3 linked regions of the Homo sapiens genome follow. The protein of the gene in region 3 purifies or fractionates together with the protein of the main gene of each other region. This does not show direct contact. Each region holds a gene or a part of one and is shown on either strand. Other genes may lie near its edges. The genes, in order: POGK, MTPAP and ZNF333.

Region 1 (3,652 bases), on a different chromosome or scaffold from region 3:
GGGCTGGAGGAGGGAGTCCAGCAGCTGGTGGTGCTGGGGATTGGGCATTTGTGGCCTCCAGGCAATCAGCCATCCATCCACAGTTACCAAGCACAGTGCTGGGCGTAAAGAGAGACTCTTTTCCTGATGGAATTTCCAGTCTTGTGAGCAAGGCAGGAAAGTAAACATAAGTAATAGTAAGCACAGTGTGCAGAGTGCAGTGGTGGAAGTCTGCAAGGATGCACCAGGAGCCAAGATGAGGGGATGCCTCATTCAGGCTGAGAACTCCGGGGCTTCCTGGACAAGGCCTAATCTTGAGCAGTGAGCAATTTTGCCCCCACCCCTGGACATTTGGCAACATCTAGAAACACTACCCCCTTTCCCCACCCCTGGATATTTGGCAATATCTGGAAACACTTTTGTTGGTCTGACTTGGTGGGGGTGCGTTGGGGACTGGGAGATCCTCCTGGCATCTAGTGGATAGAAGCCAGGGGAGCTGCTAGATATCTACAGTGCACAGGATGCCCCCCCACCACCACACACACACACACATACACACACAACAAAGAGGTAACTGGCCCAAAATGTCAGTTGTGCTGAGGTTGAGAAACCCTGCTCTAGAGCATTAGAAGAAAAGAATCTGTTTTTAAAATATGTATTTTGGTTATAGAGAATTATGTTAGGGTGATCAGTGAAAGCTTTTCAAGCATAAGAACTATGATAATATATTAGGATAAAATTCCATAGAATTGAAATAGAAATACAATTTTAAGTAGAAAAAATAAAAAATGTGCTTTGAACTGAGTCTTAGTCATTATGGAATCAGCCAAGGGAAGGGAAGGGGGTTGCATTCCAGGCAAGAGGACAGCACAGGCAAAAGCACTGAGGAGAGGAGCTTGGGTGCAGAGTTAGGAGCAGCTCCTGCAGCTGGAACCTGAAACTCATGGCAGGGAGTGGAAGGGGATCAGGTATAGGAGGCCAGGCCAGGGGCCAGAGCCAGCCAGGAGGACATGCAGTGCTACGCCAGCGAGTTTGAGCTTTCTCCTTAGCTCTGTGGAATGAGGCCTTAGCCCATCTTTCTAAGGGAGGCCTCAGGCTCTCTACAGCCACCATGCTAAGGCCTGAGTGGCCTGCTAAGAAAGCAAAGCTTTGGCATCAGACTTTCTAGCTCTGTGACCTTGGACAAGTTACTTAACCACTCTGTTTCCTTACCCATAAAAGTGAGGTAGTGATCCCCATGTCCCTAGTTTAGCGGATTCAGTGAGAGAATATATTTATATGATTGAGTGTCCTATACAGTGCTTGGCCCATAGCAGGCACTCCATCAGTGGATCAGTACAAACTACCCCAACCCCTTCCCCCGAGATCCCTGCGTCTTTGCTGGGTGGCTGCAAGGCTTTAGCGAGGCTGTGCAAGGTGTAAGCACTTTACAACATTTACCCTTTGAGATAGCATTGGAATGCCAACTTCCTGAGCAGAGCAAGGCAGTGCACACAAGCTAGAGGAAGAACACTTATCCAGTGAGCCCTTGATCTTCTGAGGAAAGGGAGGAGGGCAGGGACTGAAGGTCCCTACCTGCAAGGCCAAGGAGGGGTGTCTGGAGGTGGTACACAGACTGCCTGACTTCTCAGTTTTGCCCGGGGCCGGCCCTGTTTACCTTCTGCTATGTTGAGCCAGATAAAAGGCCTCTGTGGAGCGAGGGGAGGCCTGCGCAGCAGGGCCTGGCTGAAGGATCGCTCCATTCTCACAGAGGCTTGCTGTGAGGAGAATGTCTAAGCCACTACACTGTGCCTCTGGAGCATAATGTGGGCTTGTTTGAAGATCCTCCGTGGCTCAGTCATTAATAGGAAGAGATGAATCCTGCACCAGCCCCCAGCTTTCTTCCTGCAGCTTCAGGGCTCCTGGTACCTGATGTTTTTACCAGGCCTAGAATATGTTACCCCCCCTAAGAGTATTGATGGCCCCTCTGAAATGACAGGCATAGACAGTCCTGTTCCCATTTTATCAGCAAAGGGAAAGGGACTATAAATAGGTATGACCTAGATCTGGAACTTCCCAGGGAGAAAAAAAGGCCAAAGAGACAGTTCTTTAAAAGCCTGGGAATTGGGAAAGGAGTAGGGTGGAAAATTCCTGGGCTGACTGGCTTTCCAGGGTGAGGAAGTCTGAGGAAAGCCTGAAGACGAATCCATTTTACCTCCTCATATTTCACACTTAGGGATGTTTGTCCATTCTTACTCCAAAGAGTAGGTTTGGTTTTATGACAGATAAAATTTAATGATTCTTTGAAACAGTTCCAAGTAGAACAAGAGAAGGGAAATCCAGAGATTTGCCTAGATCGTATATTCAAAAGCACATTTTTCAGTGACTACTAGCTACAGGAAGTGTCCTCGGCTTAGGGAAGCAAAAAGGAGTAAGTACAGGTCCTGCTTTCAACAAGCTCAGATTCTAGTGGAGGGAGCAGACAAGTCAACCAAAAGAATTCTGCAGTGTGATGAGTGCCCCGGGAGTGTGGAGCCCAGGACATTTCAGGGACATGTGGGTGTGCTCACAGCGTGGCACAGAGTGGGCTTCCTCGGGAGCAGGGATTTTGGGCTGAGTCCTGGAAGATGGGTGGGTGTCAGCCAGACCAAGAAAGGGGAGGCCCTCCAAGGCCAGGGGAGAATATGGGCCAAGGTGTGGGGGCGTTGGGGAATGGTTGTTCAGGGAACTGCACACAGCTGAGTACAAGTGGAGCACAGAGCTGGGGAGAGTTGAGGGTTAGTCATCAGGGAGGCAGCTGTGCTCGGTATTGCTGGATCCTTGGGGTCAGGCGGTGGTGGCCCCAAAACGCAACCCCACCATTTATTGGCTATGACATTAGCCTGGAAATGAGACCTCTCCAAGCCCATATTCTCCTTGATTAAGTAGGGGCATGGTGGCTTGTGCCTCTAATCCCAGCTACTAGGGAGGCTGAGGCAGGAGAATGGCTTGAACTCAGGAGGCAGAGGTTGCAGTGAGCCAAGATCGTGCCACTGCACTCCAGCCTGGGCAACAGAGCAAGACTCCATCTCAAAAAAAAAAAAAAAAAATAGGCGTATCTACTCCTCCACAGGCCCATTGCAGGGAATAAATGAAGCAGTTACAGGCCCTTTCCTAGTACGTGCTTCCTATGTATGAGGTGCTGTGGAGGTGGGGAGAGAACAAGGGGGCTTCCTTGGGTCAGGGAGGAAAGGCCAATGTATGTAAGTGACTGTTGGCCTGACCCCTGAAGTGGCTGCAGGCTATATAGCATATGGACACTAATTTTCTAAGCTAAGGAAAAACAGTATCATAATCACCCAGACCCAAGATACAGCTTTGGGAAATAGCTTTGAAGGCAAGAATACAAAATAACCAGCCTGAAACAAGCCATCCAGTGCCTTCTTATCACTAAATAGGATGAGCTTTGGAGTAGGATTTTTAATGACTGTAATAAGAAATACAGTTAAAAACAAAAAGAGGAGGTTGGTTTGGGTGGCTTGGCTGCCTTGGGCTACTGAGGAGCCCCCTGGTGCTGGGCCAGGAAGCAGAGGAACAGGGGAGGGATGCAGTCCTTTGGGCTTTCTGCCTACCTGGTCCAGGATCAAAGTGAATGAGTTTGCTCTGGCATCTCATTACATATATTAAGCTGTAATTAGCCCTTCTTTCTTCCTCT
Region 2 (3,652 bases), on a different chromosome or scaffold from region 3:
ATAGCTCCTTCAACATATTATAAATTGTATAGTAGAGCACGTAAAATGTGCTATTAAAATGTTAAAACCTAGAATAATTTTTGAGAAATTATGCAGGTAACCAGGTCTTGACAAAAAAATGACAAAAAACACAAAAAATGGGAGATAAATTTATAGGAGGCTTATTTATCTCTCTGGTGATTATAGGCATTTAAAGTCAAATATCAGGGCCGGGCACGGTGGCTCACGCCTGTAATCCTAGCATTTTGGGAGGCCGAGGCGAGTGGATCACTTAAGGTCAGGAGTTTGAGACCAGCCTGGCCAATATAGTGAAACCCTGTCTCTAACTAAAAATATAAAAATTAGCCGGGTGTGGTGGTGTTCGCCTGTAGTTCCGGCTACTCAGGAGGCTGGGGCAGGAGAATCACTTGAAGCCGGGACGCGGAAGTTGCAGTGAGCCAAGGTCACGCCGCCACTGCACTTCAGCCTGGGTGACAGAGCCAGATTCCATCTCAAAAAAAAAATTAAAATATCAGCAGTCATCCAGATTATTGATTATATACCTGCTATATGCTAGATGCTCATTGGGGGCAGGTCGGTGGTGGGGAGTTGGGCAATAATGAATAGGACAGTGGCCTTTGTAATTCCTGACTGGGGCAGAGGAGTGGACAGCATACAAACAGTCACAATGCAGTCAGATAAGTCAAATGGTGAATGGAACAAAAAGGATGGAAAACCAGTTTGGAATTATGAAATGCTTTCAGATAGGAAGTAGCCATTGATGAGATTTCTGAAGAGTGGGAATTTGCTCTTGAAAACAGCATAGTATCTGTTGCAGATAGTGTGGGCCAGGGATTTCATGGTGGTTGTATATTTATGAAAATGATTACCTCTTAAGATATAAATACTAGTAGGAAAGGTGAATATCTGAGTCTAACGTGCTGTTATTGAGTTTGTTTTGCTGAATTACTGAATTCCAGTTAGTCTAGAGTGCTACATTTTAGAAATTACCTGAAGCTTTTTTAGTTAGCATTCAGTTTGTGTCGTGTATGAAGATGATAAGAATGGAATTGGAGATGTAAATTAAGTATTGACTAGAGGTAGTGCTGAAATTTGGTTTGGTGAAAGATGGGGGAACTCCCTACATTTCCATCTACTGTTAGAAAACTGATTACCTCAAAAATTGATTAGGAATCATTGGGTTGTTGAAAGACAATAATTCTAGTATGCTAAATTAAATGTAATGTTAATTTCACTGTGGCATAACTAGTCTCAAATCTTTTTTTAAAATATAACTCCATTAAAAGAAGATAAAAAGATTTGAGATTAGTTATGCCATAGTGAAATTAACATCATTAAATCATAGACAAGAAATTATAGATTAAATCGTTATTTAATCATTCAGTCATAATTATTCAATCATTTATAAAATCTGTGATTTAAATAAAGAATAGAGTAGAAATTTACTTAAATTTGTTTTGTTTTGTTTTGTTTTGTTTTTTGAGATGGAGTCTTGCTCTCTTGCCCAGGCAACAGTGATGTGATCTCAGCTCATTGCAACCTCCGCCTCCTGGGTTCAAGCGATTCTCGTGCCTCAGCCTCTTCAGTAGCTAGGATTACAGGAGCAAGCCACCATGCCTGGCTAATTTTTGTATTTTTAGTAGAGATGGGGTTTCACCATATTGGCCAGGCTGGTCTCGAACTCCTGACCTCAGGTGATCTACCCGCCTCAGCCTTCCAAAGTTCTGGGATTACAGGTGTGAGCCACCGCGCCTGGCCTTAAATTTATTTAAATCATAGATTTGTATTCTGAGGTAGGGAATATCTTTGAAATATGTGAAATAGGCTGGGTGCGGTGGCTCACGCCTGTAATCCCCTCACTTTGGGAGGATGAGGTGGGTGGATCACCTGAGGTCAGGAGTTCGAGACCAGCCTGGCCAACATGGTAAAACCCCATCCCTATTAAAAATACAAAAATGAGCTGAGCGTGGGGGCATGTGCCTATAATCCCAGCTACCCGGGAGGCTGAGGCAGGAGAATTGCTGGAACCTGGGAGGTGGAGGCTGCATTGAGCTGAGATCATGCCGCTACACTCCAGCCTGGATGACAGAGTGAGACTCCATCTCAGGCAAAGAAAAAAAAAAAACACGTGAAATATTTTTTGTTTGTGTTTAAGATGCAGAAGATAAATGTGTAATAGAAGGCAACAACTGCACATTTGTTCGTGACTTGAGTAGAATTAAACCTTCACAGAACACAGAAACATTAGGTAAGTGTCTTTCTGTTTACTTGATCCTTTCTGGATTGAAACAGGCTTTCCTCTGATTGTCCTTGTTTTATTTTCTTACAGAATTACTACTGAAGGAATTTTTTGAGTATTTTGGCAATTTTGCTTTCGATAAAAATTCCATAAATATTCGACAGGTAAATAATGTTTTACTATTTAGTTATTAGTATCTGGTCTTCCACTGTACTAATATTTAATTAACTGTTTTCAAAACACTCTAATAAATGTTATTTATTTCTTTTGTGTAGTAATTTGTAGTAACAAGGAGGTTGATGTCCAGAGAAGTTACATGACTTGACTAAGATCAGTCATCCCTTTATGCCAAATAGTAAAAGCCAGCTCTTTAGCATCTGCCTTGTTATTATGCCATGGGACTTCTGTCCTCACTTAGTGTAATACTGTATCCCTCATGATGTGGAATACATTCCAGAAAGTTTCCTGAAAACTATTATTTACATACAGCTGTTTTTAAACTGGATTTGTGTCTATGGAATAAACTTAAGTCCCAAAGATAGATTTCAGTGATTCCCTCAATTTGAGCCCTTAGGATTTAGGTGTTTTTTTGTTTTGTTTTGTTTTGTTTTGTTTTTTTTTTTTGAGCAAATGAACTTACGATTTGGATTTCTGAGCAGCTGGGATGAAAGACATTTTTTCTTTTCAAAAAGAAACTCAGGCAGAAGTCTAGACAAAATTTGTTTGCAAGTGGGAGATAACTTGGGATAGCCCTCTGTTTGGGTTTATTCTGTTTAGCATTTGGCTACTTGATTACAAACCTTACAAGATTGGCTTCATAAAACACAAACCCAGATATACTTTCTCCTTATTTCTTCACCTCTCCGTTTTTCATCCTTCCCTCTTACCTGCTCATGGACTCTTTGTTAAAATAAAAGATTGGGGAGAGGAGAGAGAAAGGATTCATTCGGAAAGCTTTGCAAATGCTATCTAGAAGGAAAAAGTCATAAGCATACAAAGTTCGTCACCTTTTTTGTACTCCAAAGCTCAGAGATGCCAAGCATGAAATAAGTTAGGGAATATAACAGCTGCTGCTCACATCAGGGAATTTTGACCATTGGCTTTGTAATAGTTAATTAAGTAAATTTATGGTATCATTTGAAAGAGGAAAAGATATATAGACTAATGGCTTATGTTAGTCATATGATTCATAGCTTTAGCTTTTCTTTTTCTTTTCTCTTCTTTTTTTTTTTTTTTTTTTTTGTTTTTGTTTTTTGAGACAGAGTCTCACTGTATTGCCCAGGCTGGAGTGCAGTGGCATGATCTTGGCTCACTGCAGCCTCCGCCTCCTGGGTTCAAGTGATTCTCCTGCCTCAGCCTCCTAAGTAGCTGGGATTACAGGCATGCGCCACAACACCTGGCTAGTTTTGTATT
Region 3 (3,652 bases):
CTGGGCATGGTGACTCAGGCCTGTGGTCCCAGGTACTCGGGAGGCTGAGGTAGAAGGATCGCTTGAGCCCAGGAGTTTGAGGCTGCAGTGAGCCATGAACATGCCACTGCATTCCAGCCTGTGTGGCAGAGCAAGACCCTGTCTTTTAAAAACCAAAAAAAGAGGTGAATGATGGTGGAAAGCTCGCCAATATCTGTGCCAGTGCCCAGGGGTCCTCCCCACCGGGAGCATATTCTCAGCATTTTCAAGCCATGCCTTGTTTAGACAGCTGGAGTTCGTCGAGTGTGTTGCCAGCTCTACCACAGGGCTGCCTCCTATTCACAATGGGGCTTCTCTACCAGGAGGGGTTTTTCTGACAGTTGCTGAGGAGGAAGTCGTATTTCGCACGCTCAATGTCTGACTCACATTTATTAAAATGTTTCCTTCAGGAAACCTTCTAGAAAAAAAGAATCTTGAGGCAGGCAGATCACTTGAGGCCAGGAGTTCGAGACCAGCCTGGCCAACACAGTGAAACCCTGTCTCTACCAAAAAATACAAAAATTAGCCAGACGTGGTGGTGCACGCCTGCAGTCCCAACTACTCGGGAGGCTGAAGCAGGAAAATCACTCGATCCTGGGAGGTGGAGGCTGAAATGAGCCGAGATCATGCCACTGCACTCCAGCCTGGGTGACAGAACAAGACTCTGTCTCAAAAAAAAAAAAAGTCTTGAGCAACAGTCTGGGTTTGCCCAAATTCAGAAGTCACAGGCACTCCCCTCAGACACTGTTTCCCTTCCAAGAGACACCCATGCTGCTAACATCTCCCTGGCTCTGGTCCTGTATTTCCACCTCACGTGTTCCTCAACTTCTCCCATGCTGGGAGCCGGGGAAAACCCCGTGCATCTTACCATTTGCATGTCCCTGGAGGATGCTTCTTCCAAAAGATCCTGCATAGAAGGCAACTCTTCGGGTTTAAGTTGAGATTCCCAGGCTGAAATGAATGGGAGAAAAAATGAACTCCTTTCAGAAAGAAATAGTGACATTAATTGAAAATATATATTCACATATATATGTGAATATATATACACACTATACACACATAGGCTTTTTCTTTTAATGTTGAATATAAATATTCAAATTTTAATACCGAATACATATATTCAAGTTGAGATTTCCAGTCTGAAATGAATTGGGAAAAAATAAACTCCTTTCAAAAAGAAATAGTGGCATAAAATTGAAAATATATATGTGTGTATATATATATATATATATATATATATATATATATATCTATATTTGTGTGTGTGTACACACATACATGTTTTTTGTTTTTTGTTTTTTGTTTTTTTTGAGACAGAGTCTTGCTCTTTCGCCCAGGCTGGAGTGCAGTGGCGCAATCTTGGCTCACTGCAACCTCTGCCTCCTGAGTTCAAGCAATTCTCTGCCTCAGCCTCCCAAGTAGTTGGGATTACAGGTACCCGCCACCACGTCTGGCTAATTTTTTTTGTATTTTTAGTAGAGACAGGATTTCACCATCTTGGCCAGGCTGGTCTTGAACTCCTGACCTTGTGATCCACCCACCTCAGCCTCCCAAAGTGCTGGGATTACAGGCATGAGCCACATGTTTTCTTTACTTTTTATTTTTGAGATAGGGTCTCACTCTGTCACCCAGGCTGGAGTGCAGTGGTGCGATCTTGGCTCACTGCAACCTCCACCTCCCAGGTTCAAGCAATTCTTGTGCCTCAGCCTCCCAAGTAGCTGGGATTACAGGCATGCACCACCATGCCCAGCTAATTTTTTTTTTTTTTTTTTTTTTGAGACGGAGTCTCACTCTGTCGCCCAGGCTGGAGTACAATGGCATGATCTCGGCTCACTGCAACCTCCGCCTCCCAGGTTCAAGTGATTCTAGTGTCTCAACCTCCTGAGTAGCTGGGATTACAGGCGCGCACCACCATGTCAGGCTAATTTTTGTATTTTTAGTAGAGACAGGGTTTCACCATGTTGGGCCAGGCTGGTCTCGAACTCCTGACCTGAAGTGATCCACCCAAAGTGCCGGGACTGCAGGCATGAGCCACCATGCCCAGCCCAGCTTTTAATACTGACCTTAGACTTGGGAAGATCCTGAAAGGGAAGACAGCATCTGTATGTAGGGCTATGTGTGGACTCTGGCAGTCATAGGAATGAGGGGAAAATGAGAGGCAATTTCCTAGCTAAGAATTCTATGAGGACTGAGACTATTTCCAGAAAGCAGATGTTATTAGAAAAAAGAGTAAGAAAGAACTAGACAAAGAACATACATAAAAAGGTTAAATTTAAAGAGGAATTGGATGACAAGTATGGGCGAGAATGTGGATAAATCAAAACTCTCATCTCCGCTGGTGGGAATGTAAAATGGTGTACCTGTGTTGGAAAGTGGTACGACAGTTGCTCAAGAAGTTAAGCATAGCATTACCATATGAGCCAGCAATTCTGCTCCTCAGTATATACCTAAGAGAATTAAGTACATGTCTACATAAATCTTGTACACAAGGCCAGGCACGGTGGCGCACGCCTGTAATCCCACCACTCTGGGAGGCCAAGGTGGGAGGATCACCCAAGCCCAGGAGTTCAAGACCAGCCTGGGCAACATAGGAAGAATGGTCTCTAGAAAAAAATTTAAAATTAGCCAGGCATGAGGGCATGCACCTGTGGTCCCAGCTATTCAAGAGACTGAGGTGGGAGGATTGCTTGAGCCCAAAAGGCTGAGGCTGCAGTGACCTATGATTGCACCACTGCACTCCAGCCTGGGCGACAGAACAAGACCCTATCTCAAAAAAAAAAAAAAAAAAAAAAGAAAAGAAAAAAGAAATATTGTACACAAACATTCACAGCAACATTATTCACAATAGCTAAAAAGTAGAAACAATCCAACTGTCTATCAACTGATGAACAAATAATCAAAATATAGCTTATCCATACAATGTATATTATTCAGCCTTAAAAAAGGAATTAAGTTCTGATTCATGCTACAACATGGATGGATCTGGAAAACATAAAGCTAAGTGAAAGAAGACAGATACTGCTGTAGTTTAAGTGTGTCCTCCACAGTTCATGGGTTGGAAGCAATTCCCATACAACAGTATTGAGAGCTGGAACTTTAAAAGGTGATTAGGTGGCCGGGCACAATGGCTCACGCCTGTAATCCCAGCATTTTGTGAGGCTGAGGTGGGTGGACCACGAGATGAGGAGTTCTCGACCAGCCTGACCAACACAGTGAAACCCCATCTCTACTAAAAATACAAAAATTAGCCGGGTGTGGTGGTGTGCACCTGTAGTCCCAGCTACTCAGGAGACTCAGGCAGGAGAATCGCTTGAACCCAGGACGCAGAGGTTGCAGTGAGCCGAGATCGTACCACTGCACTCCAGCCTGGGTGACAGGGCGAGACTCTGTCCCAAAAAAAAAAAAAAAAAAAAAAAAAGGTGATTAGGTCACGAGGAATCTGCCCTGTGATTACTTCAGAAGGGGGTTAGTTATCTCAAGAGTGGCCTTGCTGTAAAAACCAGTCTGGGCCTCTCTTGTTCTCTTGCAACATGATCTCGTCCACCATGTTATGATGCTGCAAGAAGGCCCTTACCAGATGCAGCCCCTCAGCCTTAGACTTCCCAGCCTCCAGAACCAGGAGTCAAATAAACTT

Evidence for each region.
Region 1: the proteins of ZNF333 (region 3) and POGK purify together in Homo sapiens (affinity purification with mass spectrometry; one large-scale study listed by BioGRID and IntAct). This does not show direct contact.
Region 2: the proteins of ZNF333 (region 3) and MTPAP purify together in Homo sapiens (affinity purification with mass spectrometry; one large-scale study listed by BioGRID and IntAct). This does not show direct contact.

Annotation. Positions count from the first base shown.
Region 1 is NC_000001.11:166,842,329-166,845,980, forward strand, and holds part of POGK (pogo transposable element with KRAB domain), read left to right. Parts: intron 1-3,652.
Region 2 is NC_000010.11:30,314,714-30,318,365, reverse strand, and holds part of MTPAP (poly(A) RNA polymerase, mitochondrial precursor), read left to right. Parts: intron 1-2,155; coding exon 2,156-2,248; intron 2,249-2,329; coding exon 2,330-2,403; intron 2,404-3,652. UniProt on the Homo sapiens protein: Polymerase that creates the 3' poly(A) tail of mitochondrial transcripts. Can use all four nucleotides, but has higher activity with ATP and UTP (in vitro). Plays a role in replication-dependent histone mRNA degradation.
Region 3 is NC_000019.10:14,696,516-14,700,167, reverse strand, and holds part of ZNF333 (zinc finger protein 333), read right to left. Parts: intron 971-3,652; exon of another isoform or gene 970-970; coding exon 887-969; intron 1-886. UniProt on the Homo sapiens protein: May be involved in transcriptional regulation.